Homo sapiens: one gene and its partners. The protein of the gene in region 1 purifies or fractionates together with the protein of each later gene. This does not show direct contact. Each region holds a gene or a part of one and is shown in the gene's direction. Other genes may lie near its edges.

Region 1 (4,292 bases):
TACTTTCTTAAGGATGAACTGTCAGTAGCATTTTGGCCCCAGTCTACATGACTCTAGAGAGAACTGCTTCTTTTTTCTCTCGTTGATTAACTGTTCATTCCCCATCTGTGTTGTGCCAGGGGTTTCATTATGACTGCATCTGAGAAGTTCTAGTGTATGAGGCAGATGTTGGCTAAATGGCCAGAGGACTGAATGTGAAGGGTCAGGGGAGACAAGGGTTGTGTAGGAGATCATGAAGCTGGGAGACCCTATCCTGGGGTACCTGATGCATCAGTGACGTCTGGGAGGACATCCTGGAGGTGGTGCTGCTGGAGCAGAGACGAGAAGAATAAAAAGAATTGGTCGGGCATGGTGGTTCACGCCTGTAATCCCAGTGCCTTGGGAGGCTGAGGTGGACAGATCACTTAAGGTCAGGAGTTCGAGACGGTGAAACCCCGTCTCTCCTAAAAATACAGAAATTAGCTGGGCGTGGTGGCAGATGCCTGTAATCCTAGCTACTCAGGAGGCTGAGGCAGGAGGATCACTTGAACCCAGGAGCTGGAAGTTGCAGTGAGCTGAGATCACACCACTGCACTCCAGTTTGGATGATAGAGTGAGATCCTATCTTTAAAAAAAAAAAAAAAAAAAAGGTTAACTGAAGATGGGGAAGGGGTGCCCTAGGAGTGGGGCACAACCCAGCAAACACTCCAAGGTGGGAGGGAGCGCGGTGGGGATTAAGACAGGCCACTTCTGTGGCCAAACACTGTGGAAGCTGGGGAGGACCCTGACCTGGCTCAGGTGTTCACAGGCCCCCTCTGGCTGTGTGTGGGGAACAGGTGGTGGAGGACAGGAAGAGTAGGGAGACCAGGAAGGGGCTGCTGTGAGAGTCCTGATGAGGGGACGAGGTCTGGAGCTGTGGGTCAGGCCTCTGCTGGGTGCACAGGACTGAGCCTTTGGGCCACCCTGGGCAGCTGAAGCTAAGGGGTGCGGGTGTTCATAGGCACCTCATAGGCAGTGGCATCTTTGAGCAGGTTTCATAACAGGCGGTTCAGGTACACACAGACCTCCCAGGCCACTCAAGGAAGGTGTTCCAGAGTGGAGCCACTGGGGAATTTTTACATTTTCTAAAATTCTTTTTCTCTTTATAAATATCACCCATATTCATTGTTTAAAATAACAGAACTTCAAATTTGTGAAAATTCTCAACAGAAATTCTCAGTGACGCTTCATCCGGAGGTAAAGGCCATTCCTATTTTGCCATGTTAGCCCAGTGGCTTAGGCCAGACACCTCAGGGTGTTCCTTGGGCCCGCTCTCTCCCTCACCCCCACATCCACTCTCATCAAATCCTCTCGGCTCCACCTACAAAAACTTCCCTGACCCTGGTCCAGCCTCCATCCTTCCCCCAACCTCGCCATCCCGGCAGCTTCCTCCCTGGCCTCCCCGCTCCCCATCTCAGCCAGAGGGAGCCTGGGACCACCTGAGTCAGGCCAGGGCCCTCCTAGCTCAGAGCCCTGCCCTGGTGGCACTTCGCTCCAGATAAAAACCAAAGTCTAGGCCAGGTGCGGTGGATCGTGCCTGTAATCCCACCCAGTACATTGGGAGGCTGAGGTGGGAAGATCACTTGAGGTCAGGAGTTCTAGACCAGCCTGACCAGCATGGCAAAATGTCGTCTCTACTTAAAAATACAAAAATTAGCCGGGTGTGGTGGTGTGTGCCTATAGTTTCAGCTGCCCGGGAGGCTGAGGCAGGAGAATCACTTGAATTTGCAGTGAGGCAGAGGTTTCCGTGAGCTGAGATCACACCACCACACTCCAGCCTGGGTGACAGAGCGAGACTCCGTCAAAAAAAAAAAAAAAACCCAAAGTCTCCAGCAGTCCCTTGTGTCTTCCACTCTCCCTCTGGCTCGCTCCACCCCACCCGCACCACCCACTCTAGAGCGTGAAGGACATTTCTACCTCTGGCCGTCTGCACCTGCCGTTCTTGCTCATCTTTCCAGCCTTGGCTGAAACATCCCCTCTTTTGGGAAGCCTACCCTCCCATGCTCCTTAAGCCTCTTCCCTGTCATATTTTTCTCCATAGCCATCCTCCAGTGTTTCATAGGTACCTGTTCCTTTGTTTGTGGTTGGCCTTCTCCCTGCACAATGAGCACAGCCTGAGGGCAGAGTGCGTCTGTGTTTACACTGAGTCCCCAGCATGAGGCCCAGCTGGGCCCCTGGGAGCTCGGAAACCAATGAATGAATGAATAGTGGGGGCAGAACAGGAAGAGATGCTCTGGGGCCTGAGGTTGGGGCCAGCTTAGGAGAGTCCCAGAGGCCCATCGAGGAGATGCGCTGTGCACAGGGCTGTGGGCAAGGCCTGAGCTCTGCCGGTTGGACTCTGTGACTTTGGGGCCCTTGGCGATGTTGATGCCAGCAAGCGGGGAACTTCTGGGGACAGAGGCAGCCTCTGGGAGCTTGGATGGGGGTGAGGAAGGGGAGGTGGCCAGTGTACGTAGCTACTTCTCCCTTCCGCTGGGCTCAGGAGAGAAGAGAAGGCTGCAGTACAGGCGAGGGAGGGAGATGCGTTTTTCCCAGATGGAGACACTGAAGTCCCTGCACCCAGCACCCAGGCCTCCCTGGCCAGACCCTGATCCCCACGGAGCCCCTCCCCTCACACAGGTCATTGACCACAGTGGCGCCCGCCTTGGTGAGTATGAGGACGTGTCCCGGGTGGAGAAGTACACGATCTCACAAGAAGCCTACGACCAGAGGCAAGGTACGGGCAGGTGGGCGTCGAGGGGTGCGTGGGGGCCAGAGGGAGTATGTGCAGGTATGAGGGCGGGCAGGTTAGACAGGGCCCCTGCAGGGAGGCCAGTGGTGTAGACGGGGGGCCGAGAGCTTGGGAGGATATAGGGGTGAGGCTGGGAGTGGGGACAGACGGAGGCCTGGGGTGGGAATGAGGGCCGGGAGGTGTCAGGGGTATGGGCAGTCAGACGTGGTCGGGGGAGGGCTGGGAAAGTGGAGGGAGTTGAGGGGTAGGTGTGGGGGCTGGGTGTTGTCAGGGTCAGATGGGGGCATGGGGCGGTCGGACGGGGTGTGGAGGGCAGGACAGGTGGAATGCGAGTGGACAGGGTGGCGGTCAGTGAGGGCGCCTGGGACGGATCGAGTGTTGGGGGAGACCGGGGGCCTCAGGGCCGGAGGAGGGCGGAGGAGGAAGGCGGATGATGAAGGCAGATGTGCGCTGAAGGGGTGAGAGACCATGGGTCCTGTAGTGAGGGGTGCAGGCGGCACCCCTTCCATTTACGATTGTGGAGTTGGGGGGCCTAGGAGTCCTGGGAGAGGCTAAGGCTGTGGTGGGAGACCTGGGGCTTGGGTGACAGCCCTTTGTCACCTGGAAGAGAGAGTTCCTCCGTGAACGTGGGCCCCTCGTGGGTGGAGCGTCATCCTGTTAGGCCCGGCCGACACCCCAACTGACCCCAGCCCCCTCTGCCCACAGACACGGTCCGCTCTTTCCTGAAGCGCAGCAAGCTCGGCCGGTACAACGAGGAGGAGCGGGCTCAGCAGGAGGCCGAGGCCGCCCAGCGCCTGGCCGAGGAGAAGGCCCAGGCCAGCTCCATCCCCGTGGGCAGCCGCTGTGAGGTGCGGGCGGCGGGACAATCCCCTCGCCGGGGCACCGTCATGTATGTAGGTGCGTGGCTCGCGGGCCCGGTCCCGGGCTCCAGGGCTCCAAGGCCGGGAGGAAATGTTGGGGGCACAGTGGAGCCTCGGAGACCACGCTCTGCCTAGGGGCGCGGGGTTGGGGGGGACTCGAAACGATCTCAGTCCCTGGAGGTGACGGAACCATCTGCCGACACTGACGGCCCAGAGTGTTTGTGGAGGGAAGTGGGAGGCGCAGGCGGAGTGATCTGTCCAGCGAGGGAGGAAGCAGAAGCCAGAGGCACGCGGCCTGTGCGCTTCGAAGCGTGGGGCAGTGTCAGTCGCGGTGGGGAAACGGGCGGCGTGACCAAGGCAGGAGTGAGGGAACACAGGGGGCTGTGTGAGCCCAGAGGAAGCACCTGGAGGCTGGGAGCATCTGAAGGAAAGGAGGCAGCAGCCAGGTGAAAAGGGAGGAAGAGTTCCCGCCAGAAGGAGTAGCGGGTGCAGGTGAGCAGAGCGCAGGAGGTCCACCTGGGGAAGGGGAGCGGGAGGAGAGGGGAGAAGTGTAGTCAGGGGCATGGGCAGGGCGGCGTCACAGTGGAGAGCAGTGTGGATTTTTTTAAAAAGAACAGGCTAGGCATGATGGCTCACGCCTGTAAACTCAGCACTTTGGGAGAACAAGGTGGGAGGCTTGCTTG
Region 2 (4,292 bases), on another chromosome or scaffold:
ACCGGGAGAGACAGGCATACATTAATCACACAAACACCTTCTCTATCAATATACTGTACATTGCAGGTGTTTTGAGTACCCAGTACATGCCAGCAGCACTACAGGGGCTGATACAGAGAATGCTATGACATAGTCCCTGTTGTTGAGGAGCTCATGCAATAGTGTGGAGATAGACAGGTGAAGAAATCATTATCATATACAGTAGATCAAAGTGATAAAGAAGTAGAAAGCTATGGGAGCCTAGGAGAGGGAGGAAAGGAGGGAAATAGAACTGTGCCTGGGGGCATCGGGAAGTACTTTGAGAAAAAAATGGAATACTTAATCTGGGCCTTGAAGGTTGAGTAGGAGTTTCTCCAGAAAGAAAGGAAGAAAGGCATATAGGTATAGTCATGTACCACATAATGGTGTTTTGGTTAATGATGGACCACATATATGATGCTAGTCCCATAAGATTATGGACCAGATATGTGATGCTAGTCCTATAAGATTATAACCCCATATTTTCACTGTGCCTTTTCTATGATTATTTATGTTTGGATACACAAATTCTTGCCATTGTGTTGCAGTTGCCTACAGTATTCGGTAAGATAACACGCTGAACAGGTAGGTGTGCCGCCTAGGAGCAATAGGCTATACCACGGAGTCTGGGTGTGTAGTAGGCTATGCCATCTAGGTGTGTGCGAGTGCTCTATGATCACACAATGGCAAAGTCGCCTAACAATGGCAGTTCTCAGAATGTATCCCCATCATTAAATGATGCATGACTGTTTTATTTGCAAAGGTCTTCAGGCTACCAATTACTCGTGTGTTCAGGGATCAGGCAGCAGTTCTGAGTGGCTTGGTCAGTGTGTCCTGTCTCCTGAGGTTTCCTCTTTCAGTCAAGTGCCACCTCTTCCCCTTCAGGACCTATACGAGGCAGGGGAACTGAAATGGGGAACAGATGAAGCCCAGTTCATTTACATCTTGGGAAATCGCAGCAAGCAGCATCTTCGGTTGGGTAAGCTCCAGAGAAGACCTGAAGCTGCTCCCTTGGGTTGATGCCAATAATGCCTTTCTTTATCTCTTTTCTTTTCTTTACCACTAATGGAACATGATACCTACTTCATTCCCAACCCAAACTTTAGTCCTGAGTTTATTAGGTTGGTGCAAAAGTAACTGCGGTTTTTGCCGTTTTTAAAGGAATGGCAAAAACCGCAATTACTTTTGCACCAACCTAATATCAGACAGCAGTTTGTATAGTCCCTCAGCAAAGTCATTAACAGGATGCTTGGCCTTCCATCTCAGTGCCAGTCCTGTCTCCATGTTAGGGGATGAGACACAGTCTCTCACCAGCTATGAAGCTCATCTGCACAGCGCTGGTGATGTGCGTGACCTCCCAGTCGCCTCCATCATAGCACCAGCCCTAGCTTCATGGTGGACAGTCGTCCTGGCCACTGTGCCCCCCTGCTCTTGAAGTCCTCATTTCTTCTCGGGGGTACAGAGGCACTCTCAAACCTCCCTGTCTCTCTGTCTGACGCAGTGTTCGATGAGTATCTGAAGACCACAGGGAAGCCGATTGAAGCCAGCATCCGAGGGGAGCTGTCTGGGGACTTTGAGAAGCTAATGCTGGCCGTAGGTATGTCCTGACGTTGCATTCCTGGGGGCTTTAGGGGATTCTGGAACACTGGCCTAGGAACAAGGGGCTGAGAATGGAAAGGGGAATTACATGGTATAGAATTGGGAAGGAGAAAACCATGTGGGCCGTGAATTCTAAAGGTTTCTCCAGGGCAGCATGGCTGAGGCTGGGGACGGGAAGGGGGTTTGAGCCTCAGGTACTGACTTCCTCCAGCTCCCTTCTCCACCACTGGCAGGGGGACAAAGAGCTCTGAACTTGGGTTGAGGATAATGATGATCATAATAGTTGACTTTTGTTGAGCATCTAGTGCATGCCAGGCACTGTGCTGAGTGTGTAATCTTTAAAAAAGACCCAGCAGTGGCCACTGCCATGATCTCTATTTCACAGATGAGGAAACTGAGTCTCACCAGGCTGATCATTTCCTGAGGGGTAGTTTTGTAATGAGTTGGGGGTACTGAGAACGTGAGGATGTGAGGAACTGGCTAGTCAGTGGTGGAGCCAAGATTCAAACCAGGGCTTCTCCCACATGGGCTTGGAGCAAGTCACTTCTGCTTGCTGGACCTCAGTTTCCTCATCTGTTAAGTGGGGTGCAGGGTGTGGGGGCAGGAAGGATGGACTGCCTTAATTGCCTCCCCAGAAGCCCTTCCAATTCTGGCATTCCAGCAGTTAGCATGTCTGAGTCAGGGATATGTTGTGTGTTTGTATTTCTTGGGGGAAACCTGCAGCTCCTTTATCGTCCCTCCCAGAGCCATCCCCTGCCCTCCCTGTTTGAAGTAGTCAGCCAGTGGGACTCACGGTGATTCAGTGGGATTCACAATGATTCAGCTGCCAGTACCTTTCTGGTGTAGCAGGTCTAAAAAACACCTTTTCCTCCTTCGCCCCAGACCCTACCCCCACCCCAGCTCAATTCCCTGTTAAAACCAAAAGGACTAGAAAGATAAAGGCGGTCTTTGTGATGGACTTCAAAAGGATTATTTCAACAAGATTATTTCCTGTTTATTCCCTGGGTGTGCGGTAAAAGTGGGTTGGTCTGGGGTGATCTGGGGCTGTGAGCTATCAGGAACGGTGGTTCTTCCTGTATTGAGCTAGGTGGCCCTCAAGGAATAGAAACAAAGAGGGAGTCAGGCCATCCCATCCCCCTTCTGAGGCAGCCAGAATAACTCTACCTCTTCCTCCCTCTTCACAGTGAAGTGTATCCGGAGCACCCCGGAATATTTTGCTGAAAGGCTCTTCAAGGCTATGAAGGTGCGTGGTGGGGCTGATGTGAATGGGGTTTGGGGAGAGGACTATTGGGAGTCTTTGACAAGTCCTTGGGATCCAGTGGCCAAAGAGAGCCCTTCAGGGATGGCCACAGGACTGACCCTGGTGAAGGTGCTCTGTCGCAGGTGAGCTGTAGAGCCAGGAATGCTGCTGGTCACATGTCCTGCCACCTGCATACCTGCCTGACGTCATGAGTCAACAGATGAACTTAGGGTGGCAGCCTGCACCTGATCCCTCCAGCCAAATGGGTTGGCGGCTCGGACTTTGAAGAAGTATTAACCAGAATGTTTTTATACAGCGTATGTAGGCAAGACCACTTTGGCCTTGCCTGCTAAGACTCATGATGCTCACCCTGTGACAGTTCCACTCTGGGTGTGTTTCTGAGAAAGCTTCCCAGGCTTTTACACATATGACGCACAAAGAAACTGGTATTTTTGTGATGCACTGGAGGAAATGAATGCAGTTATTTGCTGCCAGAGGCCTGAGGCCCGAGACACAGGAGCTTGGGCCTTTCTGGCCCTGGTTGGCCATTCCGAAAGGACAAAGTAGACTGTCGGCCATTCTCTGCCCACCAGTGTGCCATAATGAGGTTGGGCAGCTCAGCCCTAGAGAGATGTTTGCCTGTATGCATGAATTCATTAAGAATGCCCATCACAAGGCTGAGTGCATGCAGTGGCTCACACCTATGATCCCAGCACTCTGGGAGGCCAAAGTGGGAGGATCACTTGAGGCCCAAAGTTCAAGACCAGCCTGGGCAACATAGTAAGACCCTTGTCTCTACAAAAATAACAAATAGAACTAGCCAGGGACTGTGGCACATACCTGTAGTCCTAACTACTCGGGAGGCTGAGGCAGGAGGATTTCTTGAGCACAGGGCCCCTGGGTTTGAGGCTTCAGTGAACGCAGTGCTATGTGATCACGCCACTGTACTCTAGCCTGGACAACAGAGTGAGACCCTGCCTCTTCAAAAAAAAAAGAAAAAGAAAAAAAAAACTTATAACAGTATTGCTTATATTAGGAAAAAGCTAGAAACAACCCAGTGACCATCAGGAATAGTACAGCAAAAACCTAAATGCACAGTGGTATATTTGCAGAGTTCCAAAATGTGTAAATCTAAGTGTATTGCTTAGAGTTACAAAGCTATGGTAAAATTATAAGGAAAATCAAGTGTGGAAATTATACATGAAGAGAGAAGAGGTTTATAACAGTGAGAGGGCCGGGCATGGTGGCTCATGTGTGTAATCGTAGCATTTTGGGAGGCCAAGGCAGCCCTTGAGGCCAGTTCAAGACCAGCCTGGCCAACATGGCAAAACCCCATCTCTACTAAAAATACAAAAATTAGCCAGGCGTAGTGGTGGGTACCTGTACTCCCAGCTGCTCAGGAAGCTGAGGCAGGAGAATTGCTTGAGTCTGGAAG
Region 3 (4,292 bases), on another chromosome or scaffold:
CACCTGCATACCTACAGCCTGCCTGTGGGGATGCTGTCATCGGCAATGACTCACTTGCTGGACCAGTATCAGGCCAAATTAATGTGCCATTAGTCTTAAGAGTCAACAGAAAGGCCCCCACACCCTTATCCCACCTTCCAGACACTGAGACATCAGCCCGCCTCCTGCATGGGTACAGGTGAATTGAGGAGCCTTCCAATCCAAAGCCACCGGGTTTCTTGCTTCTGTCTCTTTCTTCTTTAGAGAGAAGACAGTAGGTTTGTCTTTGGAAAGACAGAGGTATGACATACTTGATTTGTACATATGTGATTTCCTTTAGATTCGGTGCTCTCCTGGGGACCTTACCTGTACAGCATGGTAAGTAGATACACATCTGCACCCTCTGGGCAAACAGCCCAGCAGATCTCTTCTGGCTGTGACCCCAGGAAAAGAGATGCTGGATGAGTTTGCCTATGTGGTTGACACTGCTTTTTAGGGACTAGTCATCCACATAGAGTTGGAGACCCAAAGCAAGAGCTCGCCTCAGGGACAAATTGAAAGAAAATCAGCACACATCACTTTTTTCCAGATATAAGAAACACATTTTTCCAATGCCCTAAATTTTTATTACAAAAATTTTCAAATATGCAGAAATGTTGAAAGATCACGGTGAATACCTACTTAGGTTCAGTTAACAATTTGCTGTGTTTCATCCAATAAACATGTGGCTTGTAACAATACACTTTGATATGTGAGCTCCCGTTCTCCTTCCTTCCCCTCTTTCTCCTACCCCTCCCTAACTGCAGCAATACCAGATTGACGTTCCCAAGTAAAGTGGGTCTTTTTGCTCTTGGTTTGCATTCCAGTCTCTTCTCGAAGACAAAGGTCTGGCAGAGGTGTCTAAGGTTGCAGAGCAAGTACTGAATGCCGTAAATAAGGGGCTCTACAGAGAGGCCACAGAGCTGTGGGGGAAAGCAGAAATGATCATTGAACAGGTAAAAAGGGGAAACACTCAGAGGCGAGCCTGCTTGGCTTTTTCTGGTGGGTACAGGGCCCATGGTTGGTGTTGTCAAACTTGGAGTCTACACTGAGGCTCCCCACATATCTGCAAATGATTGCATGCTGGATAATAAATCTCTTGGGTCTAAGCAGTGATGTAGTGGCTCCTTACAGAGTCAGAAAGCCACCCAGGCCTGCAAGACTTGCTTGTCCTTCACTAAATGTATGGATTCTATTAAAAAAAAAAAAAAAAAAGACTGTCTTGCAGAGGTGAGTGTGTGGAGAAAACACATTCCCTTATTGGGACCCTTGCCAAGCAACATTCTGACTCCAGAGAGCCAGAAGGAAAGAATGCGTAGGCTAAGGACTTGGGAGTGTAGGCCCCTCTGCAGCTCTGTTCTCCCTGTAAATTAACACCTAGGCCCTTGGTTTTTTCCCTGCAGGGCCTGATCACTGCTCATATGAGATGCTCACCACTCCAGGGAGAGTGGGCTGACACAGCTGGTTTCTGAGACTTCAGAGCTGCATTTCTTTCTTTATTTTATTTTTTACTTTTTCTTTTTTCCTCTATTTATTTATTTATTTATTTATTTTTGAGACACTCGCCCAGGCTGGAGTGCAATGGCACAGTCTTGGCTCACTGCAACCTCTGCCTCCTGGGCTCAAGTGATTCCCCTGCCTCAGCCTCCCGAGTAGCTGAGATAATTGGCACGCACCACCGCACCCAGCTAATTTTTGTATTTTTAGTAGAGAAGGGGTTTCACCGTGTTGCCCAGGCTGGTCTTGAACTCCTGACCTTAGGTGATCCACCCACCTCAGCCTCCCAAAGTGCTGGGATTATAGGCGTGAGCCACCGCGCCTGGCCTCTTTTTCCTTTCTTTCTTTTTTATTTTTTTTTGAGACTAAGTCTGGCTCTGTCACCCACACTGTAGTGCAGTGGCCCGATCTCGGCTCACTGCAACCTCTGCCTCCTGGGTTCAAGTGATTCTCATGCCTCAGCCTCCAGAGTAGTTGGGACTACAGGTGAGCACCACCACGCCCGGCTGATTTTTGTGTTTTCAGTAGAGAGGGGTTTCACCATGTTGACCAGGCCGGTCTCGAACTCCTGGGCTCAAGTGATCCACCCACCTCAGCCTCCCGAAGTGCTGGGATTACAGACATGAGCCACCAGGCCCAGCCAAAGCTCTATTTCTTTCTGATCCAAGCAGATATACAAAATTAAACCTGTCCTTGGATAAGATAAAGAGCCATGTGTCCTTCTGTTTGGCAGCTTTGATGATAGGAAAATGAAACAAACAGCCAAATAAACTTTTATATTTCAGAACACAGATGGGGTGAACTTCTATAACATCTTAACTAAAAGCACTCCCACGTCTACAATGGAGTCGAGTCTAGAATTCACACAGAGCCACCTAGGTGAGTGAACCTTGAAGTTATTAAAGTCCCTGCCTCAGCCTCCATGCAAAAAGAAACCTGTTTATTAAAAAAAAAAAAAACTTTATTAACATATAATTTGCATACCATAAAATTAACTCACTGTAAGTGGTTTTCAGTATATTCCCAGAGTTGTGCAGTCATCACTACAATCCAGTTATGGAGCATTTCTGTCACCCCAAGGAGATCCCACGTGTCTGCTTGCAGACAGTTCTCATTCCCACTCCCAGCCACAGGCAACCACTCATCTGCCTTCTGTCTCTCTAGATTTTCCTTTTCTGAACATTTTATATAAATACAATCGCACAATAGTTAGTCTTTTGCACTGGCTTCTGTCACATAGCATGATGTTTTTGAAGTTTAGAAACCAGCTTCCATACACCAAATTACAACATCAGTTCAAGACTGAATTTAGTCATCTTTCAGCCAACCAAGAAGCATATAAAGGCTGCAGGATACCCTAGGTTCCACTTTCTAGATGATTCTCTTTGGCCGTTCTGGAGAATCCCAATGGCCCCCAAGTCTATAGAATGTATAATCAATACTATTAGGTTGGTGCAAAAGTAACTGTGGTTTTTGACAGGTTTCAAGAATTATTAACTCACAACTAATGAAGCATTATTTCCCTTCCCACCCAGTTCCCTACCAACCCCTTATTTTGAACCAATTTTGACAAATCTATTTTTTCCCTTTTTTTTTTTAAGAGATAAGGTTTCACTCTGTTGCCCAGGCCAGAGTGCCATTGAATTTGAGAAATTCTGCCATTACTTTTAATGGCAAAAACCGCAGTTACTTGTGCACCAACCTAATAATAAAGCCTCTCCACTTTCAATGTGTTTCTGACTTCCTTCCTCCCGCTGGGGGTGAATCAAGGTGACGCTTTTCCTTTTCCAGCTGAATCTGAAACCCTCCCTCTTGCTGTGCAGCATCCCCAGCAGCTTGGTAAAGATGTCCTCATGGCCAGGCGTGGTGGCTCACACCTGTAATCCCACCACTTGGGAGGCTGAGGCGGGTGGATCATGAGGACAAGAGATCGAGACCATCCTGGCCAACATGGTGAAACCCTGTCTCTACTAAAAATACAAAAATGAGCTGGGCATGGTGGCGGGTGCCTGTAGTTCCAGCTACTCGGGAGGCTGAGGCAGGAAAATCGCTTGAACCCAGGAGGCGGAGGTTTCAGTGAGCCGAGATCGTGCCACTGCACTCCAGCCTGGAGACAGAGAGAGATTCTGTCTCAAAAAAAAAAAAAAAAGATGTCCTCTTGGCCTTACTTCCAGCCCTTTGACTCACTATCTACCAGTTTGGTTTTAGTTTGTCTTTGTCAGCGCCACGTGAGACACCTACAACGAGATGCCTTAAGCCAGCTCATGAATGGCCCCATCAGAAAGAAGCTCAAAATTATTCCTGAGGATCAATCCTGGGGAGGTACTTATATGACCTAATTAAGTGCCGTTTGTACAGTTATGGGGAGAAAAGAGGTGCAAATTCAGAGACCTGAATTTGTAGGGTGGGTTTTGTTGTTGGTGATGATAGGTTATAGGTAAACAATATTACTATCCACGTTTTGTAGGTGAGCAAATAGATACAGAGACAGTAAATGACTTGTCAGGGCTGGATGCAGTGGCTCACGCCTATAATCCCACCACTGTGGGAGACTGAGTTGAGAGGATTGCTTGAGGCCACAATTAAGCAACATAGTAAAGCCCCATCTCTTTAAAAAAATAGAAAAATTAGCTGGGCATGGTGGCATGTGGCATATAGTTCTAACTACTTGGGAGGCTGAGGTGGGAGGATTGCTTGAACCCAGGAGTTTGAGGGTACAGTGAGCTATGATTATGCCACTGCTCTCCAGCCTGGGCAGCAGAGAGAAACCCTGTTTC
Region 4 (4,292 bases), on another chromosome or scaffold:
GCAGCTTTAAATGCCTGGCACAGTGAATGCAAACTTGGATTCAATTCTTGTTCCTTACCTAATAAATGAACTTTCACTTTGAGGAAGTGCAGAAGAACATAGGGAGGTGGAGGTGAGTAACTTGCTGCAGGTTACATGGCAAGTCTCCGCATATGCCTGGCTAGCTCCTCCACAAATGCGTGTGGAGGAGCTAGCCAGGCATATGCAGAGCGTCACTTACAGCCGAACACAGCACTACTGCTTGCATGTTTAATGAGAATTGAGCAGTCTGGAAAACAAGTCACAAACTTGAGCTCTTGTTTGTTCATTTGTCTTGGTGCTGCTCCTTGTTCTTTGGAATAAATGCTTGTCACTTAGGAAGACTCAAGGTGGCCTATCGGTGAGTCCATGTTACTGGGGATGGTTGGCCCCTTCTTGAAGGCAGGGACAAAGAGCACAAGTTTGGCCACATGTAGTTCATTGCGTAAATAGTGATTTATTATTTCTCCACACTTGGGCCCTGGAGCCTCTGTGGCCCTGGCTCACGTACTGTTAGTCTAGAATGTATTCTTCATTTGCGCCGTGGTATGAGTTGCCTTCGTGCTTATTCTGACAGCTGTGGCTGATGACCTTGTGAAACACAGTGGCTGCCTTTGCCACACTGCACCCGTGCTTGTTAGTGGTTCTATGAGAACTGATCTTTAAGACCCCCCATTGCCAGTATTAGGCTGTGGTAAGTTTTTGGTGACTTCTTTTCTTAAATATTCTGTCAAAGTAACAATGTCTGCCGACAGCTCAGGTAGATGAAGGCATAGCTCATGTTTCATGCTTGGTTTGTATGTCTGCAGCTTTGCCAAATGCTTGAGATCTGATGAATTTTGAGACACGGGAAAGAATATAAATGAGAGGATTATGTAGTGGGGATTTACGTCATTTTTATGACTTAAAAGTTTTAATTTTTCAAAAGGTATTTTGTAAGTTTTAGGTAAAGGAAACATTTAACTATGGAAATTTACATAAATGTTGTATCATGCTACCACCAGTGCATTTTCCAGCCTGTGGCCAGGAAAGACAGAGCCTGCAGAGAAGAGAGGAGGAAATGGACAGTGTAAGAAGGATGCCAGTGAGGGGATTTTACTTCTGTACATAGCAGGGAAGGCTTTGGCAGCTTTCTGTGGCCAGAAGATAAGGGCGTTCCAGGGAAGGTTATTTTGACCTTTTCCCAAGATGGTTAACTGGCAGGGCATTTTGCTCCAGCTTTCATTTTCTTGGAAGTTTATTACTATTATTATTATTTTAAACAGGGGCATGAACATTTTATAGCTAGAAGAGACTGACAGGTTCATGGTGGGAAGGGAGGGAAGGCAGGAGGAAAGGAACCTTGTTCGCCTTTGGCTTGATAGTTTGAAGGTAGTGGTTTTTGATTACAAAACCTTTGCCTCAGGAGCGTGGCAGGAAGAGGGGGTAGATGAGCTAATGCTCAGAGAGGAGACAGCTGGATCCTGAGGTGGTTGTATTGTCTCTACCCCATTGGTTTGATGTGTGTCACTTAAAAAAAAATTAACATTCCAGAATAATACCTAAAGCATTGTATCCTTTTTTGCTCCTTCTGAATACATTAGAGCTACCTATAAATAAACTGTGTTTGAGAGTAGGAGCTATGATCTGAATTTTGAATTTTTTTTCTTGCATTTAGCTAACCAAGGGAATCCCAATGTAGATTCAAATGTCATTGTGGTCCTGGGCTTGTCTAGCTTCACCTTCACCCCAGTCTGAGGCACAGTCTTAAGAAATCCTTCAGTCCTCACCCCTGGGGTGGGTGGAGACAGCTGGCGTCCCTTGGGGATTTAGAAAACTCATACCTTAACTGATAAGCTAGGGTTGTAACCTTATGCCAGTGACATCAATGTTCACAATAGGTGAATATGTTGTAAAAATAAGAGCCAATAAGTATTATTTCACAGCCTAAATTAAAAAGTCCCTGATCTGTTTTTCCAGGAACAATCTTGTCTTAGTGATTTGGTAAGGTCTTGGTAACATCTGGAAATCTACTTTATAAATCACTTTATGATTCACTTTCCTTATTCTGCATATTATGTTAACATAACAAGTTATGCAATGTTAGCATTCCTATAAATATATTTATAGGTTTCTAAAGGGATCTTAATTGTAAATATTTATCCTCATTAGAGGGTAAGTTTTTTAACATATGCTAAGTTTTAGAGTGTAGTGTTTAATATATGAGGGACATCAGAATAGCCTAATACATTTATTGATTGATTATATGAAGCCCATTTAATCCTTGAAATACCCCTATGATGTAGATACTATTTTTCTTGCTGTGTTACAGATAAGGAAATTGCATATGGAGATATTTACCTAAGTTCATGTAATCGAAATTAGTGAAATTGAGATTTGCACTCAGATTCTAATGCCTACTGAGGCTTGTGCTATAAAGGGGATCTTTGTAACCTGGGGGAGTCACATCACAGACCTCTGTTGTAAGTGAGTTGACATTGGAGCCAGGCCTTACTATAGCTGTGGTCATCGGATTTCCTCAGAAACACTTGGGAGTGAAATAACGATGCCCCAGGTCCCCTTCCAGACTTTCTCCCAAACAGATCATGCCTATTTTGTGACTCTAATTGACTACCAAATTTTTTAAACATCGCATTTACAGTTTCAAATTTTAATTATTCCAAATCCCTATAGTAATTTGCTATGGGCTGGGTGATGTGAAAAGTCTTTTGAGTATGAAATCTAAGGTCAAATCCCAGCTATGACAATTCTTAAGAAAGTAGACAAAATATTTATACTTGAATCTGATCTCTTAAACTCTTGCTTGAGGAAGCCATTGGCTATGATCAACTTTTTATATTTAAATATATATATATTTGTATATGTATCATGTGCAAATGTGTGTGTAGGACTATGTGTAGGCATATAGATATACGAAGGTGTGTGGATACATATATTTATATGTGATTTGTTTATATTCCTTAAATATGCATAGATCTGTAATTGCTATGCTTTTACTCCTGGTGACATTTGGTCCAGTCCACTTTTAATTTGCTGAGGCAGGACTGGCTGTCTTACAGTTGCAACATGTAAATGTTTGGCTACTGGCGATATTTTTTAATTACCTTAAAGATTTTGGTTTAAGAGAACTTCATGAGTCAAAGTAAGAAATTTCCGAAATTTAGAGAGTTGTATGATTTTAACAGCCTGTTGGAATTCATGTGGATTTGGGGTGAGGATTTGGGAGGATTGGTTGGACATGATTAAAGTTTTTCAGTATGTTTTTGGTAGCCACAAAAGTTCCTTTCTGTTTGTAAGGTATAGACGTTATTCCCCCAAATATCATAGCATAGGGAGGCCATTAAAAAAAAAAAACTAACTTTTTATTTTAGAATAGCTTTAGATTTACAATAAAGTTGTAAAGATAGTACAGAGAGTTCCTATATTCCTGTACCCAGATTCCCTATTGTTTTTGTTTGTTTGTTTGTTTGTTTGTTTGTGAGACAGGGTCTTGCTCTGTTGCCCAGGCTGGACTGTAGCCTCGACCTCCCGTTCTCAGAGGATCTTCCCACCTCAGCCTCCTGAGGAGCTGGGCCACCAAGCTCAGCTAATCAAAAAAAAAAAAAAAAAAAAAAAAAAAAAAAATATATATATATATATGGTTGGGTTGGGTGTAGTGGTTCACACCTGTAATCCCAGCACTTTGGGAGGCCAAGGCAGGCAGATCCCTTGAGCCCAGGAATTCAAGACCAGCCTGGGCAACATGGTGAAACCCCATCTCTATTAGCAGTACCAAAATTAGCCGGGTGCAGTGGTGCACGCCTGTAATCCCGGCTACTTGGGAGGCTGAGGCACAAGAATCGCTTGAACCAGAAGGTGGAGGTTGCAATGAGTCGAGATCACGCCACTGCACTCCAGCCTGGGCGACAGAGTGAGACTCTGTCTCAAAAAAATATGTTTTGTAGAGACAAGGTCTCACTGTGTTGCCTAGGCTGCTCTTGCAATCCTGGGCTTAAGTGATCCTCCCACCTTGGCCTCCGAAGTGCTGGGATTACCAGCATGAGCCACCATGCCCAGCTGGATTCCCTAACATTAACATTTGATATTCCTGCAGTACATTTGTCACAACCAAAGAACCAACATTGGTACGTTACTATTAACTAAACCACACTTTATTCATATTTCACTAGCTTTTCCCTAATGTCCTTTTTCTGTTCCAAAATCCAAACTAGGATACCAATTACATTTTGTTGTCTTGTCTCCTTTGGCTCCTCTAGTCTATAGCAGTTTCTCAA
Region 5 (4,292 bases), on another chromosome or scaffold:
GAAAGAAGAATTAAGAGAGAAGAATGAAAATTTAGTATAACTTTAGAGTCTTTTGAAAAGACCTTTTGATTTGGACCCTTCTGAAATCCCCTTGTGATAAGATAATCTTACATATTCTGGGTTGTAGTCTGAGGACGTGGAAGGCTTGGGTTCACCTGCCCAACGAGGTCACTTGTCGTCTCCTGATGGACAAGCCCAGTGTTTTGGGGCATTAGAGATGAGAATCAGGGTTATTTCCTCACTTTTGCCAATTGGAACTCAGGAGCGACTGCAGAGCACCTACTGTGTACCTGGCACTGTTCTAAGCTCTTAGGTATGTCAGCTTATTAACATTCAAATCAGCCCCATGAGGTGAAGACTGATTGTTATTAGCATCCCTGTTTAACTGAGGCCCAGGGGTAACTTGCCCAAGGTCTCCAGCTTTTCTGTACGAGCTGGGAATCGAAGCCATGCATTTGGCTTTAGAGCACCATGCTCTTGAGCACATACTTGCCTGTCTCTGGGGAATGTGAGCGGGCTCCTGGCCCGGGCCTCTGCCCACTCCTGGCTGCTGGTAGCACCCCCACCCATCATGACCACAGATGGAACTAGCTCTTCTGTTGGTTTGATCAGTGGCACCAGTACCCTCTGGCTACTCCAGCTGAGAGTCCTGGATTCATTTTCATCAACTCTCTAACTCTGTCAACTGGTCTCTTGGTTACTTTGGAGGCCTGCTAAGGGTGTCCCTAAAACTCTTTCTGGAGCCAGACTGGATCATTTCAGGAGCTCTCTACAGCTCTTAATTGCCTCCCGCTTCTACCCCCCAGCTTAGCCTCATCTTCCTCTCCATCCTTTCATTCCTCTGTCCTGCCTGTTCACACTAGGTCCTTTTGCCCTTGTCTTTTTTTTTTTTTTTTTTTTTTGAGACACAGTTTCACTCTGTCACCAGGCTGGAGTGCAGTGGCGCTATCTCTGCTTAGTGCAACCTCTGCCTCCCAGGTTCAAGCGATTCTCCTGCCTCAGCCTCCTGAGTAGTTGGGATTACAGGCGTGCGCCACCATGCCCAGCTATTTTTTGTATTTTTAGTAGAGACAGGGTTTCACCATGTTGGCCAGGATGGTCTCGATCTCCTTACCTTGTGATCCACCTGCCTCAGCCTCCCGTAGTGTTGGGATTACAGGCGTGAGCCACCGCACGAGGCCTGCCCTTGCCATTTTTGTGGCCCTGAACTCTGCTTGGCTTCTTTCCACTTAACCCCTTCCAGCTCAAATGCAGTTTACTGTCTTAATTTTCTTTCTGCTTCCTTCTCCCCCTCCTGTGTGCCAACATTAGTGTGTTTGAACCTTGCATGACATTTGTTTCATTCCACCATCTGTTAGAGTTGATGGTTTTCAGTTTGGGTTCCTTCCTCAGGGCAGGGAGAATCTTGGCTGTTAGGTTTGTCGCTGCAGTTCCTGGCCACTGGTGAGGTGCTCAGTGAGTACAAGAGTAAAGGAGGAGACCTTTCTGGAGAAAGAAGCTAAACCAGGGCTGCAGGAAGTGGAGGAGCTGGGCAGGGCCAGCTAGTCTTAGGCTAAAGGGATGGTATATGGGTGGACACTTGGAGGGGTAGTTCGCAGTTATCTCTTCATCCAAAGCATGACCTGAGGCCAAAGCATGACCTGAGGCCGGTCCTGAGGAGGGAGAGAGAAAGGGAGGAGAGTTTCCTGTCCTTCAGCAATCAAGACTGTGTGTCCTGCCTATGGAGAGATGGAAGATTCTTTCTATTTTTTTTTTTTTTTTTTTGAGACGGAGTCTCGCTCTGTCGCCCAGGCTGGAGTGCAGTGGCGCAATCTCAGCTCACTGCAAACTCCACCTCCCGGGTTCACGCCATTCTCCTGCCTCAGCCTCCCGAGTAGCTGGGACTACAGGCGCCTGCCACCATGCCCGGGTATTTTTTTGTATTTTTAGTAGAGACGAGGTTTCACCGTGTTATCCAGGATGGTCTCAATCTCCTGACCTCGTGATCTGCCTGACTCCGCCTCCCAAAGTGGTGGGATTACAGGAGTGAGCCACCGCGCCTGGCTGATTCTTTCTATTGATTGAGATAAGTTAGTATACAAGATGCAGGATTTTGTCATTTAAGAATGGAGAATCAGGGTTAACCATAGAGATAAAATGAAGTATATACTCCTTTCTCTGACCATTGACCAAATTGTTTTAATACGCATAGACTGGTGACATTTGCACTGGAATCCTGTAATAGACATAGCTCATGTAGATTCCTTGTTGTATGAGCAAGGGGTGACCTTCAATGCTGGGCTTGAGAGGAATATCTTGGAAGCGAAAAGATTGAACAGAGACCCCAAGAGTCAAGAAAGCCAAGAATTTTAATGTTTTTTTAAGAACCTACAGTGAGTGCAAGGCCCTCTGAGTGTGATATGGGAGACAGAAACCCAGATACTTTTCAGTTGTCTAGAGAGATATGGCTGCTAGGTCAAAAGAGTGAATTACCATGGGTGGGGCTGGAGTTAGAGCCTCAAGGAACCTTGGCACATTTTGGACACCTACCACGTGCCATTAGTCCGCACGTATGGGATTAGAGTATCAAGAGTAAATTGCTGATTGAAACCTTAATAATATTATTTTTGTCTATGTTAATTTTGATTGGACAAACTGACATTGACAGGTACAATTCACTCCATTTGTTCAATATGTAACATCTTGGTAACCTAACTCTGTCCCTTTCTCTGCTCAGAAGACAACTGATGGTAGTTAGGAATACTTTGTAGCTTTTGTTAACCATCCGTTTGTTTTATATTGCCAAACTTACATTTCAGAGAGAGCTAAGAAGCACTTTTTCCTCTACCTTTGAATGAATTAACTCCCCTGAGCTCAGCCAAAGTCAATTTTTTTTTTTTTTTGTGAGACAGAGTTTCGCTCTGTCACCAGGCTGGAGTGCAGTGGCACAATCTTGGCTCACTGCAACCTCCACCTCCTGGGTTCAAGTGATTCTCCTACCTCAGTCTCCCAAGTAGCTGGGACTACAGGTGCGCACCACCATGCCCAGCTAATTTTTTTTTAGTAGAGATGGGGTTTCACCATGTTGACCAGGATGGTCTCGATCTCTTGACCTCGTGATCTGCCCACTTTGGCCTCCCAAAGTGCTGGGATTACAGGCGTGAGCCACTGCGCCTGGCCTTTTTTTTTTTTTTTTTTTTTTGAGATGGAGTCTCACTCTGTCGCCCAGGCTGGAGTACAGTGGCGTGATCTCAGCTCACTGCAACCTCGGCCTCCTGGGTTCCTGCCGTTCGCCTGCCTCAGCCTCCCGAGTAGCTGGGACTACAGGCGCCCACCACCATGTCCGGTTAATTTTTTTATATCTTTAGTAGAGATGGGGTTTTTCACTGTGTTAGCCAGGATGGTCTTATCTCCTGACCTCATGATCCACCTGCCTAGGCCTCCCAAAGTACTGGGATTACTTTGGCGTGAGCCACCGCGCCAGGCATTTTTTTTTTTTTTTTAAACATCACTTTTCAAAGTTGAACTTTTCCAGTACTCTGGGGAGTTTGGGGCAATTGGAGGTCCTTTTCCAAGGGGGGAATCAGAGCAACACAAACCACAGTTGGCAATGGGAGTAAGGAGATCTGATGAACTGAAAGAACTTGGAGCCCCAGAAAACTGGCTTCCTTTGTTCAGATACTTCCGGTTTAAAAGACCACATCTTGATAAGACGTTCCTCATTATCATCGTTGAGCTTTGAAGTCAGCAGGTTTGGTTTGTTTTCCAACACTGTACGTAGTCTGTCTTTGCCTTTTCAAAGCTGTGGGGGTTATGCCGGGCGCGGTGGCTCACGCCTGTAATCCCAGCACTTTGAGAGGCCAAGGCGGGCGGATCACGAGGTCAGGATATCAAGACCATCCTGGCTAACACGGTGAAACCCCGTCTCTACTAAAAATACAAAAAAAAAAAAAAAAAATTAGCCGGGCGTGGTGGCAGGCACCTGTAGTCCCAGCTACTTGGGAGGCTGAGGCAGGAGAATCAGTTGAGCCCGGGAGGTGGAGCTTGCAGTGAGCTGAGATCGCACCAATGCACTCCAGCCTGGGCGACAGAGCAAGACTCTGTCTCAAAAAAAAAAAAAAAAAAAAAAAAAAGCTGTGGGGGTTGGGATGTGGCAAATTAAATCCCCATAGCTCACTGGACACGTCTTCATATCACACTCTGTGGATCACACACCATGCTTCCTTGTGCTGGAGTGGCTCTTTCTGCTTATCTTTAAAGCAGTTTTCTCAGCCTTGGTGCTATTGACATTTTGGGACAGATACGTTTTTTGT
Region 6 (4,292 bases), on another chromosome or scaffold:
GTGAGCTGAGATCATGCCAGTACCCCCCAGCCTGGGAAACAGCCAGACTCTGTCTCAGGAAAAAAAAAAAACAAGAATCTCAGACCCCATTGCAGAACTGATCAGAACCTGCCTTCTAACCAGGCCTTCAGGTAACCTGCATATATACATCAGAGGTTGAGAAGTGCTCCTTCAGAGGAGTGGGAGCCAGCCTGCCTGGAAGTGAATCCTGCCCCTGCCAACTCTGTGACCTTTCACATGTATCCGCTAGTATTGGGCAGCAGTGCTGTGTGATAAACCAGCCCCAATCCAGCAGCTTAAACCAACAACATTGATTCTCATGGATCCGTGGGGCTGCTGGGGCAGCTCTACTTCATGCTGCAGCTCTACAGACCTGGTGTGCTTGTGTGGCTCTCATATCCCTGGGACCAGTGGGCTGGCCGGGGCTTGTTCTTCCCATGGTGATGGCAGAGGCACAAAGGGGCAAGTGAGGCTTCCTGAAGGCTAATCTTATAACTAGCATGCTGTCACTTCCACCCATATCCCATTGGCCAAAGCAGGTCACGTGACACAACCAAGCCCAAATGAAGGAGCAGGGAAGGATACTTGGCCATTGGTGGAGGACTGTAGTCTCGTGGCAAAGGGCATGGACATGGGGGTGGGGATGGCATGTGACATAAGTCTGTGTTTTAATTTCCTCCTCTTCTGCAAGAGGGACAAGATGGGGACGTGCCCACCTTGTAGGATTATAGGGGACTCAATGAGTTAATAGACATGAAAGTGACTAGAACATGGCGTGGCACAGAGCTAACATGTCATCCTCAATGGATGTTGTTAGCTGGTGTTATTGTGGGTAAGGGAATATAGATATGTTCTGCATTTTTGGGGGAGGCTGTTTGTCAATATCTATGAAAATTAAAAATACGTGTACCCTTTGAGCCAGTAGTTCCTCTTGGAGGGATTTAATCCGGCAAGCTCACAAAGATGGACAGACAGACATTCACGTGCACGTCTACTGACCACTGTGTTGTTTTCATAGTTTAAGCCTGGAGATGCCATGTGTCTAGCTGGGGGCCTCTGCTGCTGACTGAGTGTCCCCTCCTTCCCCTCCAGGTGGGCCTTCCTGGAGCTGGGCACAAGTGGCCAATACAATGACAGCTTGCAGGCCTATGCAGCCGGTGTGGTGGAGGCTGCTGTGTCGGAGGAGGTAAGGGCCAAGGTGGGGACATGGGGCTCCCACCCTGCCCCAGCCCCACAAGCATGTTCCCCAGTGTGCTTTTGAGATGTGTGCAGAGTAGGCCCCCAACTCCTGCCACAGCCCTTCATCTATCTGGGGAGAAAAAGTGGACATGCATTCTTTAGAAAATTACACTAGGGGCCGGCCACTGCACCTGGCTCTCACCCACTTCTGATATTGTCTGACTTCTTATAAAGCTCAATAACAAGTAAAGCAAAATAGTATGTTGTTCAGGGACTCATCACATGCAGTAAAACTAGCTTAACAAAAGTAAGGGAGTAGGCACAACTCGAATGCCCAGCTGCTGATGAATGGATACATACAACGTGATCTATCATACAATGCAACATTATTCAGCTATAAACGGGAATAAAGGACTGACGCACACCAGAACATGAAAGAACCTTGAAAACATGCTAAACGAAAAAAACCAGTCACAAAAGGGCACATACTGTATGATTCTGTTTATATAAAATGTTCAGAATAAGCAAATCTACAGAGACAGAAAGCCAACTAGTGGTGCCAGGGACTTGGGGGGAGTGGGGAGTGGGGAGTGACTGCTGATGGGTATGGGGTTTCTTTCTGGGATGATGAAAATGTTCTGGAGTTAGAGAGTGGTGATAGTTGCACAACCTTATGAATACATTAAAAACCATGAATTGTACTTTTTTTTTTTTTGAGACAGAGTCTTGCTCTGTCACCCAGGCTGGAGTGCAGTGGTGTGATCTCGGCTCACTGCAACCTCTGCTTCCCAGGTTCAAGTGATTTTCCTGCCTCAGCCTTCCGACTAGCTGGGATTACAGATGTGCACAACCATGCCCACCTAATTTTTGTATTTTTAGTAGAGGTGGGATTTCGCCCTGTTGGCCAGGCTGGTCTCAAACTCCTGACCTCAAGTGATCCGCCCACCTCGGCCTCCCAAAGTGCTGGGATTACAGGTGTGAGCCACTGTGCCTGGCCAAATTGTACATTTTTAAATGTGAATTTTATGGTATGCTGACTATATCTCAATATAAATGACTGAATGAAAGGGAATGATAGCTACCGCATTTAGGGTGGTGGGTGCCTCTAGGGATAGAGGAGGCAGGGGCTTAGGGGATGCTCAATGGTATCAGTACCATTCTAGGTTTTAGTTTGGATGTTCATTTTATTATCATGCTTCATAACTTAGAATATGTTATATATTTTTTCTGTGTATCAGATAGTACCTAGTGTAATTTTCTTTTTCTTTTCTTTTTTTTTTTTTTTTTTTTTTGAGACAGAGTCTCACTCTGTCACCTAGACTGGAGTACAGTGGCGTGATCTTGGCTTACTGCAACCTCTGCCTCCCTGGGTTCAAATGATTCTCATGCCTCAGCCTCCAGAGTAGCTGGAATTACAGGCATGCACCACCACGTCTGGCTAGTTTTTGCATTTCAAGTAGAGATGGGGTTTTGCCATGTTGGCCAGGCTGGTCTCAAACTCCTGACCTCAAGTGATCTGCCCACCTCGGCTTCCCAGAGTGTTGGGATTACAGGTACGAGCCACCTGGCCTAGGCTAGGCAGACATGCTATCAGGCATTGATGACCACTTTACAGAGACAGCTTGTCATGTGTACTTCACAGTAAACACCGACATTTTCCAGGGAATCCATAAATTACTGACTTTTCCATTGATGGCCTAACCAGTGGCCCAAAGGCAGAGCACCTGCCTGTAATCCCAGGATGTTGGGAGGCTGAGGAGGGAGGACTGCTTGAGCTCAGGAGTTGGAGGCTGCAGTGAGCTAGGATTGTACCACTGTACTCCAGCCTTGTGACAGAATGAGACCTTGTCTCAAAAAAATGAAACAAAACAAAACCACACAAAAAACAAAACAAGAAGTAGGCGAGGCTGTGGAGTGACAGCTGTCTCCTGTGATGCAGATGGAGGCATGCATTGGGTCACAAGTTGACATCAACTTGTGGAGTTGAACCTGCATGTGCCTTAGGATCCAGCAGCCCTACTACTTGGGTGCATACCTTAGAGGTGACCCACGGACATGCACAAGGTACTCAAAGCAGTCCCAAAGTGGGAGTCCTTAAAACACCATGGGCAGGTGAATGGCTGACCAGGTGGAGGTGCACAGTGCAGCATGACAGAGCAGTGGAAATGGGTGAATCTGAGATGCCTGGAGGCGAGGGGGAAAGAGCACATCACAGAGGACAACGTCCAGTGGGACACCCTTTTATAAAACTCACACTGCTCCTTCTGACACCCAGTCGCAGTTGTGGGTGGCCCTCTGGGACCTTAGTGTCTGGGGAAGTGGTCAGATGCTGGGCCAGGGCTGTTGTGGGTGCTCAGTGGTGAATGAGACACGGTTCAGTCTCTCAAGGGGCTCACGGCCTGCTGGGGACACTGAGGCAAGGCCACAAGTGGCTCTTATGTCAGGAATCCCAGGCCCATGTGCCAGGCACTTTGCCCACAAAGTCTCACTGAGCCTCCACCCTAAACCCCTGAGGGAAGCATGTGCACCTCCCCTGGATGGATGGGCAGGCTTGGGCCCAGAGAGGTGAAGCTACTTTCACAAGGTCAGCCAGCCAGTCCACAGAGGAGGCACCATTCAACCTCAGCTCTGTCTAACCCACGTCTCGCTCCTAACTAGTGTGCCCTGCTGCCTCCCCCTCTAGCCTGTGGCCTTCTTGTGGGTGGTAATATGTCTTGTCCCCAGCTGTGTCCCCTGATCCCAGCCCAGAACCTGGTATAGGACAGGCAGTGGGGAAATGCTGTGGAAGTCATGGAGGCCTGCATGGAGGAGGTGGTGTCTTAGTGGGCCTTGAAGGATGAACAGGATTTGGATGTGTTTCAGTGAGATGGTGATGGAGCAGCAGTCATGAAGCCATCAATCCTGAGGCAGTGAGTGCTGCCACTCACTCACGGGGATGACCAGGCTACGTGGTCTTTTGTCCCCCAGCAGGCGAGCCTGGACTCATGCAGGTGGCATCTCGGTGGGAAGTGCAGAGGGCCGCATGAAGTCTGGGTGAAACTGCCACGGCATTCTCTTGCCCAGTGGAATCAGAAGGGTTATTGCTGTTTTGTTCCCTGCTATGTCCTCAGTGC
Region 7 (3,678 bases), on another chromosome or scaffold:
TAAAAAGGAATTCCCTGGTCTGGCGGGGGTCAAGATCGCCGAAGTAGACTGCACTGCTGAACGGAATATCTGCAGCAAGTATTCGGTGGGTACTTGGATGGATGCTTATGGGAGCTCTCAGTATGGGGGCAGATCCCAAGGGAACTGTGCCTCAACCACGATAACTCACTCTGCTCTCATCTTCTCAACAATGTGGTTTTTATGTCCCTTTGAGTTGTTTGTTTGGAGAAGCAAAAGAGATCCTCTCTCAAAGGGAAGGCATTCTTCTTCGCCCGCTTTGTAGTTAGTATCCATGTTTCAGTGCAGGTTTTCAGGCCTTGCTGTCTGAGTAACAAGGCCGTGAAGTAACAGACCCCACGCCATAGACTGTGGGGCTTCCCACACCGCGACTCTTGATGATTGACCAGTGGTCTGTAGCCTTTGCCATAAATACCCGAGTCGCTCATTTTTCACACATAAGCCAGCATTATAAAATGCAGTGGCTGAATCTAAGAATCATTTCAACATAACCTCCTTTCTGAAAGGGCCATGCCAGCAAGTCGGTCCTGTGCTTGGGTTAACTACTGCCTTCATTCCAAGCTGTTAGCACAGTCTGATGGCCTGGAAGATTTGTCATTTTTTTTCTTCTTTGTTATTCAGACACTTTTGGAGCCCTTTAGATGGAGAATAGACGTAACCCAGACATAGTTTCCTTATCATTAAAAGATACCAGTTGTTTTTTGTGCCCTAAAATTCTTAGAAACGAGTTGCCACTGAAACATGTATCCTCAAGAGGATCTTGCTCTCATGGTCTGGTCTGCAGACCACCAGGGCATCGCCAGGGAGGTCATTGGAAATGCAGACTCCCAGGCCTGCTCAATCCAAATCTGCACCTTCAGCAGATCCGCAGGTGATCGTGTGCACAGTAAAGACTGAAAGCGTCTGCTTTAGGGTAAAGTCGTTCCTTTGAGGCTGATCTTTAATGATGTCATTTTGAATTCAGAAGTGAACACACAGCCCCACGGCTGTGCTTTCTAAACAGTAGTCTGCTCCTGTTTTAATGGAATATACACCTTTAAAAATTAGCCACAGAATTTTTCCAGCCACAACGGTAGGAGTGTATCTGGTTTTATTTAGGAAGCAATTTGCATGTGATCTGGACCGCTGGTTTGCAAACTTTTTTCTTTTTTGTTTTAAGGTACGAGGCTACCCCACGTTATTGCTTTTCCGAGGAGGGAAGAAAGTCAGTGAGCACAGTGGAGGCAGAGACCTTGACTCGTTACACCGCTTTGTCCTGAGCCAAGCGAAAGACGAACTTTAGGAACACAGTTGGAGGTCACCTCTCCTGCCCAGCTCCCGCACCCTGCGTTTAGGAGTTCAGTCCCACAGAGGCCACTGGGTTCCCAGTGGTGGCTGTTCAGAAAGCAGAACATACTAAGCGTGAGGTATCTTCTTTGTGTGTGTGTTTTCCAAGCCAACACACTCTACAGATTCTTTATTAAGTTAAGTTTCTCTAAGTAAATGTGTAACTCATGGTCACTGTGTAAACATTTTCAGTGGCGATATATCCCCTTTGACCTTCTCTTGATGAAATTTACATGGTTTCCTTTGAGACTAAAATAGCGTTGAGGGAAATGAAATTGCTGGACTATTTGTGGCTCCTGAGTTGAGTGATTTTGGTGAAAGAAAGCACATCCAAAGCATAGTTTACCTGCCCACGAGTTCTGGAAAGGTGGCCTTGTGGCAGTATTGACGTTCCTCTGATCTTAAGGTCACAGTTGACTCAATACTGTGTTGGTCCGTAGCATGGAGCAGATTGAAATGCAAAAACCCACACCTCTGGAAGATACCTTCACGGCCGCTGCTGGAGCTTCTGTTGCTGTGAATACTTCTCTCAGTGTGAGAGGTTAGCCGTGATGAAAGCAGCGTTACTTCTGACCGTGCCTGAGTAAGAGAATGCTGATGCCATAACTTTATGTGTCGATACTTGTCAAATCAGTTACTGTTCAGGGGATCCTTCTGTTTCTCACGGGGTGAAACATGTCTTTAGTTCCTCATGTTAACACGAAGCCAGAGCCCACATGAACTGTTGGATGTCTTCCTTAGAAAGGGTAGGCATGGAAAATTCCACGAGGCTCATTCTCAGTATCTCATTAACTCATTGAAAGATTCCAGTTGTATTTGTCACCTGGGGTGACAAGACCAGACAGGCTTTCCCAGGCCTGGGTATCCAGGGAGGCTCTGCAGCCCTGCTGAAGGGCCCTAACTAGAGTTCTAGAGTTTCTGATTCTGTTTCTCAGTAGTCCTTTTAGAGGCTTGCTATACTTGGTCTGCTTCAAGGAGGTCGACCTTCTAATGTATGAAGAATGGGATGCATTTGATCTCAAGACCAAAGACAGATGTCAGTGGGCTGCTCTGGCCCTGGTGTGCACGGCTGTGGCAGCTGTTGATGCCAGTGTCCTCTAACTCATGCTGTCCTTGTGATTAAACACCTCTATCTCCCTTGGGAATAAGCACATACAGGCTTAAGCTCTAAGATAGATAGGTGTTTGTCCTTTTACCATCGAGCTACTTCCCATAATAACCACTTTGCATCCAACACTCTTCACCCACCTCCCATACGCAAGGGGATGTGGATACTTGGCCCAAAGTAACTGGTGGTAGGAATCTTAGAAACAAGACCACTTATACTGTCTGTCTGAGGCAGAAGATAACAGCAGCATCTCGACCAGCCTCTGCCTTAAAGGAAATCTTTATTAATCACGTATGGTTCACAGATAATTCTTTTTTTAAAAAAACCCAACCTCCTAGAGAAGCACAACTGTCAAGAGTCTTGTACACACAACTTCAGCTTTGCATCACGAGTCTTGTATTCCAAGAAAATCAAAGTGGTACAATTTGTTTGTTTACACTATGATACTTTCTAAATAAACTCTTTTTTTTTAAAAGTCTGGTCTTTCCTTCAATGTTACAGCAAAACAGATATAAAATAGACAATAAATTATAGTTTATATTTACAAAAAAAGCTGTAAGTGCAAACAGTTGTAGATTATAAATGTATTATTTAATCAGTTTAGTATGAAATTGCCTTCCCAGTACATGATTGTGAAAAAGACATTTAGAAAATATTCTAAAATTTAATCTGAGCCTCACTTTCTACAAGGGAAATCATGATTTCCGTTCATAAACAGCATGCTCATCCCCCTAACACCATTCTTATAAGCTGGGCACCCTCATTTTATTTTCTTCGTTGGTTCTAACCCTGTGGCGTGGTATGCTGTATAGTAAAAAGGCAGAGAACCACTTTACTGAAAAGGTACTAGAGCCGGCAGTCCAGAAGTTAATGTGCTGGTCAAAGAACCGTTCTGGTAAAGAAGAGGTGAGCATTGCCTTCACGTGTTACACGGTTACACACCCCTTGTAGCCTCACCTCAGTGTAATCAGTCTACTTTTGGTACTAGCAAAGAGTACAGCAAATGGAGGATTGAGGTGTAGAAATGGTATGTTTTGGCTGAAATAAGTGTATTTTCACACCAACAAAACTCCAGCACGAACATACAACAGCAATGACTGAGACAAGGGCGCCCCGTGGAGCCCTGGCTGTGGCCTGGGCTGTGCGTCCTGTGGACTTCTGGGAATGAACTGAACAGAGGCGTTCCCCCCACTTCCCCGATTTCTGTTCTCTGTAAAATCTACCTT

What was found.
Region 2: the proteins of TBCB (region 1) and ANXA6 fractionate together in Homo sapiens (co-fractionation; one large-scale study listed by BioGRID). This does not show direct contact.
Region 3: the proteins of TBCB (region 1) and SCPEP1 fractionate together in Homo sapiens (co-fractionation; one large-scale study listed by BioGRID). This does not show direct contact.
Region 4: the proteins of TBCB (region 1) and ISOC1 fractionate together in Homo sapiens (co-fractionation; one large-scale study listed by BioGRID). This does not show direct contact.
Region 5: the proteins of TBCB (region 1) and HK2 fractionate together in Homo sapiens (co-fractionation; one large-scale study listed by BioGRID). This does not show direct contact.
Region 6: the proteins of TBCB (region 1) and PLBD2 fractionate together in Homo sapiens (co-fractionation; one large-scale study listed by BioGRID). This does not show direct contact.
Region 7: the proteins of TBCB (region 1) and TXNDC5 fractionate together in Homo sapiens (co-fractionation; one large-scale study listed by BioGRID). This does not show direct contact.

What each region holds. Positions count from the first base shown.
Region 1 is NC_000019.10:36,118,073-36,122,364, forward strand, and holds part of TBCB (tubulin-folding cofactor B), read left to right. Parts: intron 1-2,637; coding exon 2,638-2,734; intron 2,735-3,454; coding exon 3,455-3,646; exon of another isoform or gene 3,647-4,101; intron 4,102-4,292.
Region 2 is NC_000005.10:151,129,799-151,134,090, reverse strand, and holds part of ANXA6 (annexin A6), read left to right. Parts: intron 1-903; coding exon 904-997; intron 998-1,519; coding exon 1,520-1,615; intron 1,616-2,801; coding exon 2,802-2,860; intron 2,861-4,292. UniProt on the Homo sapiens protein: May associate with CD21. May regulate the release of Ca(2+) from intracellular stores.
Region 3 is NC_000017.11:56,994,662-56,998,953, forward strand, and holds part of SCPEP1 (retinoid-inducible serine carboxypeptidase precursor), read left to right. Parts: intron 1-319; coding exon 320-357; intron 358-845; coding exon 846-974; intron 975-2,300; coding exon 2,301-2,394; intron 2,395-3,306; coding exon of another isoform or gene 3,307-3,398; exon of another isoform or gene 3,399-3,723; coding exon 3,724-3,837; intron 3,838-4,292. UniProt on the Homo sapiens protein: May be involved in vascular wall and kidney homeostasis.
Region 4 is NC_000005.10:129,097,552-129,101,843, forward strand, and holds part of ISOC1 (isochorismatase domain-containing protein 1), read left to right. Parts: intron 1-136; exon of another isoform or gene 137-215; intron 216-4,292.
Region 5 is NC_000002.12:74,836,793-74,841,084, forward strand, and holds part of HK2 (hexokinase-2), read left to right. Parts: intron 1-4,292. UniProt on the Homo sapiens protein: Catalyzes the phosphorylation of hexose, such as D-glucose and D-fructose, to hexose 6-phosphate (D-glucose 6-phosphate and D-fructose 6-phosphate, respectively).
Region 6 is NC_000012.12:113,368,024-113,372,315, forward strand, and holds part of PLBD2 (putative phospholipase B-like 2 isoform 1 precursor), read left to right. Parts: intron 1-1,092; coding exon 1,093-1,186; intron 1,187-3,047; exon of another isoform or gene 3,048-3,234; coding exon of another isoform or gene 3,235-3,243; intron 3,244-4,292. UniProt on the Homo sapiens protein: Putative phospholipase.
Region 7 is NC_000006.12:7,880,766-7,884,443, reverse strand, and holds the end of TXNDC5 (thioredoxin domain-containing protein 5 isoform 1 precursor), read left to right. Parts: coding exon 1-85; intron 86-1,177; coding exon 1,178-1,300; 3' UTR 1,301-2,927; downstream 2,928-3,678. UniProt on the Homo sapiens protein: Protein disulfide isomerase of the endoplasmic reticulum lumen involved in the formation of disulfide bonds in proteins. Can reduce insulin disulfide bonds.